Regions from separate parts of the Homo sapiens genome. Here region 1 is linked to region 2. The links come from fine-mapping of genetic effects on gene expression. A gene starts in region 2. The other region holds a variant in brackets. All regions are shown on one strand. Distances are from middle to middle.

Region 1 (4,379 bases), 350 kb before region 2:
CCTGCAACACTGCCGCGCCTCCTCTCTCTGGCCACCACCTGTGCCTCCAGCTTCACCCAGACAGCCGTGACTCTAGCTCCATCTAGAGCCATCTCGTCCAGCCTCATTCTCCCAGGGAGTCCCTGAGATGGCTTTCCAGCGTGCATCTCTGGCATTCTAGAAGCAAGTGTGTGCAGCCACATCTAGTAAGCCCATCTGCCTGCCACAGGCACGCCAGCTGGCTCATCTTTCCCATGTCATTTCTGTCATTCACGAAAATGACTCTCTGACGTTTCCCAAGTGAGGAATCCCGGAGACTCGTGTGTTTTGCTCTTCACGCCATTGCAGAGTGCTCCATCTGTTAGGCACACTCACCTCTTTCTTCACTCTCAGGTCCCCCCCCACCCCCCTGGTTTTCTCCCCCACCACCTTGCACACCTTGTTTCAATCCCCTCTCTGGCTTCCCGTTTCCTGTGGTTTCCTTCTAGCCCACCTGCCAGGTGACTACTACTCTGAGAAGGGTGTGTTTGTAAGAGTTCCTGCCTCGTGTCACGCTCCAGGGTTCTCGCTGCCCCAGGCAGGAAGGTGGTGATGGTGGTCCCAGCCCCCCTCCCACCTGAGCAGGCTGTGCAGCCAGCCAGAATGCTCCTCGTCCTCTGTGATGCTGTTCACCCTCAGTTAGACTGCAACCACAGCGAGGGCAGAAAAGGCTCCATGACTCTGCCAGTCCTGTCCATAACCTGCACGCAGCTCAACACACAAGGGGCACTCGGGATAAGCAACTGTTTCTCACTGTCTGAAACAACAGTACCACCGAGAGATGCACTTCAAAAGTTGCCCTGAGAGTCTGACACTTTTAAAGTACAATATGGCTTTTTCAAGAAAAAGGCTTGAATAATCAAACTTCATGGAACCATAAGGAAATTCGTGGTTTAACCAATCACATGCTAATCTTTCTCTGTGAAGGAGGAAGGCTACCAAGATGATGGCATTTAGAACCCTTACCAACAGATACCCCACAGTGGGAACCAATAATGTTGATGTTGCTCTCAGCGAGGCCTCCTATCCGGATGTGATCAAATGCTCGAGTCAGAAAGGCAGCAAAGGTGCTAGCAAAAGCAATGGTCCGTCCACGGGAGGCACAGCCCAGAGCCACGCTCACCTGCAGCACAGAGAACATGAATCAGAACATCCCTGGGCATTGCCCCCACCGCCCCTTCTCCCACAGTCCCCATGATAACTCCCATTCTGCACCTGCTGAACTGCTCTGAAGTTCTAGCATGCGTCCTTCCCACACCCCTCTTTCCTCAAACCCTGGGCACCCGTCCGTCCCTCCTGCTCAGACGGCGCCCTCAACTCATAGCTCCTAGGGAGCAAGAGATGAGACTCTCTTGCCTGCCCTCCTGGTGTCCGCAGCTTTCCAGGGTCCATGCCCCGACAGGACATCCTGAATCTGTCCTGTTCCTGCTTTCTCACAGGGGTCTCCAGCCATGCAGCTCCTCCTCCCCTCTTGTGCTACTTCCCTTTCTCTTGGATCATTCTATTTCCATTCAGGTGTGCGCCAGCACCTTTTATCTTCACAGCCCCATCTCCGCCTTGTCCTGCTTTTACATCTGTGTTCTCCTTCGCAGCAAACTTCTCAAAACTTGCCTATAGTCATTGCCCCTGCTTTCTCATTTTCCACGCTCTTCCCAGCCTACTTCATCTAGGCCACCATCCCCACAAGGGACCTCGAAGCCACAAAACCAAGAGGCTGCCTGACCTTGGGTGGCCTGTGACTTGACTTGGCCCCTGATCTCAAGGCATTTCCTCCTCTCGGTTTCTGCAGTGTGGCAGTGGCCCACTGCTGTCGCCTCATGGGCGCTGCTGGGGCAAGTCCTCAGGGCCCTGTGCACCCTCGGGAAGTCGCATCTGGCCCAATGCTCCCCTGATGTGCATTCTGGTAATGATCCCCACTTTACATTGCCATTCCTTAC[C/T]CCCCTTCCCCAGAAGTCCGGGCTCAAATACCCCAGAAGGCTTCAAACTAGAATACAAACCTCTCTGCGGATACACACAGGCTTTCCAAAGGGGATGTGGCTGTGGGTGTTACACTCAAGATCCCAAACTCCAGATCAACTCTGTCTACATTCATCTGCCAAAAGGAGGGTCTGTGCTCCCCTCATGGTCTTTTTTTTTTTTTTTAGACAGGGTCTTGCTCTGTTGCCCAGGCTGGGGTGCACTGGTGCAATCTTGGCTCACTGCAACCTCCACCTCCTGGGTTCAAGCGATTCTCCTGTCTCTGCCTCCCGAGTAGCTGGGATTACAGGCACCCGCCACCACGTCTGGCTAATTTTTGTATTTTTAGTAGGGACGAGGTTTCACCATATTGGTCAGGCTGGTCTCGAACTGACAGGTGATCCACCCACCTCGGCCGGCCTCCCAAAGTTCTGGGATTACGGGCGTGAGCCACTGCCCCTGGGTCTCCCACTGTCTCTTTTAACAATCACCTTCTAGCAACCTGATCCCCAAAGGGCATGCTCTCAGCCACCTGACTCTTACAGGGGGATCATCCTGGAGTGCAGAACCTCCAGACCCAAGTAAAGAGGACAATTTGAAATAACTATGCTGGTGGAGAGAAAGTGAAGAACTTAATTAATGAAACTGTCAACTCTGTAAATAACTTTTATAAACAACTTTACATGAAAGATCACTATGTGATTTTTTGACTTACAACTGGGAAGGAATTCAAAGAACTGAGTGACATTCCTCTAACAAAACTTCCCTTCCCATCTACTTATTCATGTAAGTAAGGTTTCATAGCACATCATGAAGATGAAAAACAGGAATAGAATCTGTTCTCAATGCTATCACATTCAAACTACAAGTATACTCATCCACTAACATACCAGCTAATAATAATCAAAATTCTATCTCAGTCCAGAAAAAAAAACCTAATGCTCAGAAGCCTATATTATAATTTTTTAAAAACCTATCAATTTATATGCATATTTTTGTTGCAGAGAAAAATGATAGGACAATCAATAAAAGGCTTTCATGCATAAAGATATATTGGGGAAATGAATGGAATGGAAATTGGAAATCAAGTAGAAAAAGGGTTTTAATTTCTGACAAAGAAAAGTGGCTTGGCATGAATTTTTTTTTTTTAATTACAGACCAGGTCTCACTATGTTGTTCAGGCTGGTCTTGAACTTTTTTTTTTTTTTTTTTTTTTGAGACGGAGGCTCGCTCTGTCGCCCAGGCTGGACTGCAGTGGCGCAATCTCAGCTCACTGCAAGCTCTGCCTCCCGGGTTCACGCCATTCTCCTGCCTCAGCCTCCCGAGTAGCTGGGACTACAGGCACCCACCACCACGCCCGGCTAATTTTTTTTTTTTTTTGTATTTTTAGTAGAGAAGGGGTTTCACCATGTTAGCCAGGATGGTCTCCATCTCCTGACCTCGTGATCCGTCCGCCTCGGCCTCCCAAAGTGCTGGGATTACAGGCGTGAGCCACCGCACCCGGCCTGGTCTCGAACTCTTGAACTCCAGCAATCCTCCAGCTTCAGCCTCCCAAAGTGCCGGGATTACAGGTGTGAGCCACTATGCCCAGCCAGTGTCATCATTAATGGCATGATTTGAGTATTAAAGTATCAAAAATGTCAATATATGAACAACTACATCCTTTGCAACGACTTAAATTTATGATTAAAAATGTAGATGTGGCCAAGCATGGCGGCTCCCAGCTCCTCAAGAGGCCGAGGCCAGAGGACCCCTTGAGCCCAGGAGTTTGAGGCTGCAGGGAGCCATGATTGTGCCACTGCATTCCAGCCTGGGTGACAGAGCAAGACTCCATCTCTACAAAAAATAAAAATAAAAAAAAGATGTTAGCTTAAAACTAGGCCAACGAATATGTAGTTTAGAAAACTGCATTTAGTGGTGTGGAGCGGCCACATGTGAAAATGACTGACTGATCTACTGCCCAGCCATCTGATACCACTGTCTCCCCTCTGTACATCTAACAGGTGCCCCAACCCCCCAGGCCCACACAGAGCTCCTGATGGTGCCCTCCAGTCCACTTCTCCCCCAGTCTTGTCAATCTCAAGAGGTGACACCACCTTCCCCCAGGTGCTGCCACCCACACTCAAGCACCAGCCTTGGGTCCTGTCCTGACACCTGCCGTTGGCATCCTGCTGGCTCTCCTGCCAAGGCAATATGTGACAAGTCTGCTTCCCTCCGACTCCACAGCTACTGCCCTGGTCCAAGTCACCCTCTCCTTCTCCTCCCTTTCCTACGTGAAGCCATTCTCCAGTCTTCAGAGTTTTGGAAAACGCAGGCTGTTGCTTTCCTGCTTAAAGCCCTCCAGTGGCTTCCCAGCAAACTGCAAGAGAACCAGAGATACTGAAAAGGGCGCCTATAAGACCCCG
Region 2 (4,345 bases):
CCCAGCATCTTTGAGCAGCCCTGGATGGGATCATGTCTGCCCTGGCTTTCCACCCTTCCATGACCAGCTTCCCATTCCATGTCCTGGATCATGTCCCAAAGTCTTGGCCAGACTTAAAGTGCCATCCCCATCCAGCCCTGTGAGCTCCTCAGGCCCAGCTCTGTCCTGGAAGCCCTTTGCCCACTTCGCCTGGCCATTGCCCTTGACTCAGCTGTCATTTCCTCTCAGGCACTTCCCCGTTCAGCTCCTGACTCCAGCTGAGACACCAGCTGAGGCCCCGCATGGCGTCTACAGGTCCTTCCCTGCACCCACCTAGGGCCCCATGGCACCCATGCTAGTCTGACCCTCCTGCCTGCCAGCAAGCAGGGCGGAGAGCTGGAACAAGAGTCAAACACTGTCAACTTGATCGAGGAAGAACTCCAGGAAGGGCATGGAAAGCAACTCCTCTTTCCGGCTGCAGGGGTTCAGTCTATCTGACCGGGGGTACGGGCTGACAGTGACCATGTAATCAAAGCACCTGTCCAAGACCCCCAGGAAAACCGAGCTGGTTACCTTATAGCCTAGCTTCCCTGTACCTTTGAATTGCCATGATCCTTATTATGTGACACTCAAATCTCGTCACAGCTTCCCCCAGCGCCTGGCATGGGAAAGCCAACACCTCAACAGCACTGGCCCCTGGGTCTGGGGTCTTTCAGGGAAGCCCTGGGAAGCCTGACAATCTCCTGGCTAAAGGCCCCAGACTCTCCCGCACGCGTTTAAACAGCAGGCACTGTCACCTCCAGGCCTTTAGCATTTATGGTTAGTTATGTCCCCCGCTCCGCATGACCTTTCTTGCTGTCTTTCTGTGGATAAAGGAATATCAATTAACATTAATTTAGCTTCTGGACTGATTCCAGGCAAGGCCCTTGGAAACCAGCAGCTGCTTTTGTGTGTGTGTGTGTGTGTGTGTGTGTTTTTGAGACAGGGTCTTGCTCTGTCGCCCAGGCTGGAGCAGTGGCGCGATCTCAGCTCACTGCAGCCCTGAACTCCCTGGCTCAAGCCATCCTCCCACCTCAGCGTTCCAAGTACCTGGGACCACAGGCGTGTGCCACCATGCCTCCGGGTCTCGCTATGTTGCCCCGGCTAGGCTCAAGCAATCCTCCCACCTCAGCCTTCCAAAGTGTTGGGATTACAGGCATGAGCCAACGCATCAGGCCTTAGTTTTCTTATTTACCATGGGTGGGGGACTTGGGGACATATGTGAGGTAACTAGCCAAGGTCACAAAGAGCAGGTGGTGGCACAGACAGGCAAGAATTCTTCTCTTTGTCCCTTCTCAAATGGATACTTCCAACTGCATGAACTAAAACACAGACGATTACAAAATACATGTAATATGTTGAGAGGCGACTTTAAAAATATTGTTGAAAATGTGTGAGAGGGTGACGTGTGCTTCTTTACTAACGCATTAAATTACAAGGTCTTCCAGCAGGACGCATAACTTCAGTAACTTCAAAGTAATAATTCTGCCCGCCGGTAGATCTGGTAGATCTTGTAATTTAACTGAACTTCTAGACGTTTACAACAAAAGCCACAGGCTCTGACAGGACCGGTCTGTCCATTTCTACTGGCGACTGCCGCTCCCGGGCAGCAGCTTGGGTCCCCGCGCTGCGGCCTGCGCGTGGCAGGGCGGATGCCGCCGCCGCCGCCGCCGCCGCCGCGCCCGGGCGGCCTCCTAGAGGAGGCGAAACGTGGGGGCGAGGCCGGGACCCACCTCCCAGGGCTGCGGTGAGCACTTACAGTATTGGCGCGAAAAGGCCAGCTATCACCATACGGGTATTTCGCCTCACTCGCCTCGCTGGGGGAAATTCAAATCTCCGAAAAGGGAGGATCCGAGCAGCGCCGGTGCGCCTGCGCGCAGGGCGGGACTCGAAGCCTGGGAAGCGGGCGGGGCGAGGTGACGCGAGATGACGCGGACGCCTCCCGCGGTCGCCCGCCCGGCTCGTGCGCCACCGGCCCGACTGCGGGCCTCTCGGCAGTGGGGGCGGCCGAGCGCGCGGCGGTCTGGGGCGCGCGGCCCGGCTCATTTTGCTGCGGCGCGGGCGGAGGCGGTGGCGCCCGAGGGCGGGCCCCGCAGCCTGGGAGCCTGGGAGCGGGCGGAGGCTCCACCCCCGGGCGCCGGCGCTCGGCTGCGTCGCCTCCCACTGTCGCCCCGCCCCCGGCTCCCCCGCGGCGCGCCTCGGGCCGCCTCCTGCGGCTGCTGGGTGTGCAGGGCGCGAAAATGCTCGCTTCCCGGCCGCAGGCGCGGCTGCAGTGGCTGTTCGCCAACCCCGGCCACCTGCGTGCCGCTGTCCCCAGTGCTGGTTAAAGGCAGTTCTTCGGGCGTGCGTCCCTTATCAACCCGAGAGACCGTTCCCAAGGGGGCGGGGCCGAGCGCGTCGGAGGGGTTAGCAGTCTCATCCGGGCATTTCCGAGATGCCGCCGCCGCCATCTTTGTTTTGTGCTGAAAGTCGCTATTGACGCCCGCGGACGGCCGGGCGAGGGGAAGTGGCAAGATGGCGGCTCCCAGGGCGGAGGCGTGGAGGCTCGCCCGGTGGGGGGGCCGTGGGGCGGGGCGCGCCTGCGCCTGCACCTGATCTGAGCGCGACTCGAGCTTTAGCCCAGCGCGCGGCAGCGCCGACCCCCACCCCCGCCGCGAGGCAGCGCAGGGGTCCTTTAAGAGGCTTGGGCCCAGGGGCGAAGCGGTGCGAGGGCGAGTGGGGGGAAGCGGTGACGTCACCCGGCTCCGCCTCCTCGCCCGACCGCCGGCGCCGCTGCCGCCATGTTTAGTTGTTACTTCTTCACACAAGATGGCGGCTCCCAGGGAGGAGGCATGAGCGCCCTGCCGTTACCGCTTCTTCTGCCGTACAGTTGCCGCTTCGGGGCCTAACTCTAGCTCTTTGAAGCGGCTCCTGTGGGAAGGAGTCATAAGGCGGGAAGTGAGGATCGGACACCGCCTTGAGTTTGGTGTGCAGTGGAAGAACTGACCTAGGAGGAAGAGAATAGGGGGGAACGGGGAGCTAGTCTCAAGATGGCGGCTCCCACGGCGGCAGGCGCAGCCTGAGCAGCAGAGGCGGACTAAGGGGAGAGGCGCGAGACTTCACAAGCCGTACGGCGCGAGCCCCCAAACGGCCCTCGAGAGCTCGAGCTGGTTCCACCGGCCTCCGGCCCGCCTCCATTCGTTAGGTGTGTCGAGGCTGTTTCGGGAGCGGCGGCTGCACTAAGGCGCTGGGCGGGGAAGCGGGACGGTCTCAAGATGGCGGCTCCCACAATTGTGGTCTGAGCGCCGGCGGGGCTGCGACGACCGCGGCGCTTGTGGCTCCTTTCCACCCGCCCCGGAAGCCGGCCAGTGCTGGGGACTTGGGGGTGTGGGAACCGGGCCGGGGCTCCGCCATTTCCGGCGGGGGAGGGCTACGACTGAGGAAGGGAGGAGAGAGAGGCGGCTCAAGATGGCGGCTCCCAGGGCCTCCCGCCCGAGCTTGTAAGCGGGAGCGCCCGGACAAGTAGTCGGGGCGACGGGACTCAGCGGCCTCCAGCTTCTTGAGCCTAGGCGCTCGACAGTTTCGGGCGGCTCTTGCGGAGACGGGGTGAGCGAGAAGAAAGGGAAGAGCCAAAGGGAAGGAGGGCAGTTAAGATGGCGGCCTCCATGGAGTCGTCTACCGCTGTGTGAGAAACCGCTTCTCCGTGAGAGCTGCCTTAGACGAAAGGGGGTGTGTGAAAGGAATTGAGGGGCTCCCTTCCCGCTTGTTGACTTCTCCCCACCGCACCCTTTCCCGGAACTATGGCTTCGGCCGTGTCGCCCGCCAACTTGCCAGCGGTGCTTCTGCAGCCCCGCTGGAAGCGAGTGGTGGGCTGGTCGGGTCCGGTGCCACGGCCCCGCCACGGCCACCGCGCCGTGGCCATCAAGGAGCTCATCGTGGTGTTTGGCGGCGGCAACGAGGGAATAGTGGACGAACTGCACGTGTACAACACGGGTGAGTGCAAAGCCCGCTGGGTCTTCGGCTCTTTCCCTCCCTCCATCTCCTCCCTCTCCCTCCTCTTTCCTCCCTCCCTCCATCTGCTCCCTCCCTCTCCTCCCTCCCTCCATCTCCTCCCTCACCCTCTACCCTTCCCTCTCTCTCTCCCCTCCTCCCTTACCCGTCCTTCTCCCCTCTCCCCGTCCCCCTCCCCCTTCTCCCCTCCTCCCCCTCCCTCCCCACTGATCGGCTTGCCCCTCCCCTTTGCTGTGCCGGGCTTCAGTGCTTTTCTCTGATCTTCTCCCCGTTCCCTTGTCTCTCCCGTGTTTGAGGATTGGTTTTCGTTAGTTAAAAGAAAGCCCCTAGTCCGACT

What was found. PIP is the estimated chance that this variant, and not a neighbour inherited with it, causes the effect.
Region 1: its variant is the best candidate, but not a certain one, in a credible set for the expression of HCFC1 in T cells (TOPMed, PIP 0.90).

What each region holds. Positions count from the first base shown.
Region 1 is chrX:154,317,519-154,321,897 of GRCh38, reverse strand. It overlaps TKTL1 (transketolase like 1), which reads right to left. Exons shown (of 13, transcript NM_012253.4): 8 at 985-1,141. Among named protein-coding and RNA genes, the nearest start is that of TKTL1, 24 kb to the right of the region's middle. The variant C/T (reference allele first, on the strand shown) is at 1,956.
Region 2 is chrX:153,970,293-153,974,637 of GRCh38, reverse strand. It overlaps HCFC1 (host cell factor C1), which reads left to right and starts at 2,820. Exons shown (of 26, transcript NM_005334.3): 1 at 2,820-3,990. The coding sequence starts at 3,798. TMEM187 (transmembrane protein 187) reads right to left here and starts at 1,884. Exons shown (of 2, transcript NM_003492.3): 1 at 1,778-1,884. RefSeq lists silencers at 1,600-1,709, 1,820-2,269, 2,500-2,739 and enhancers at 2,970-3,729, 3,371-4,220, 4,210-4,345.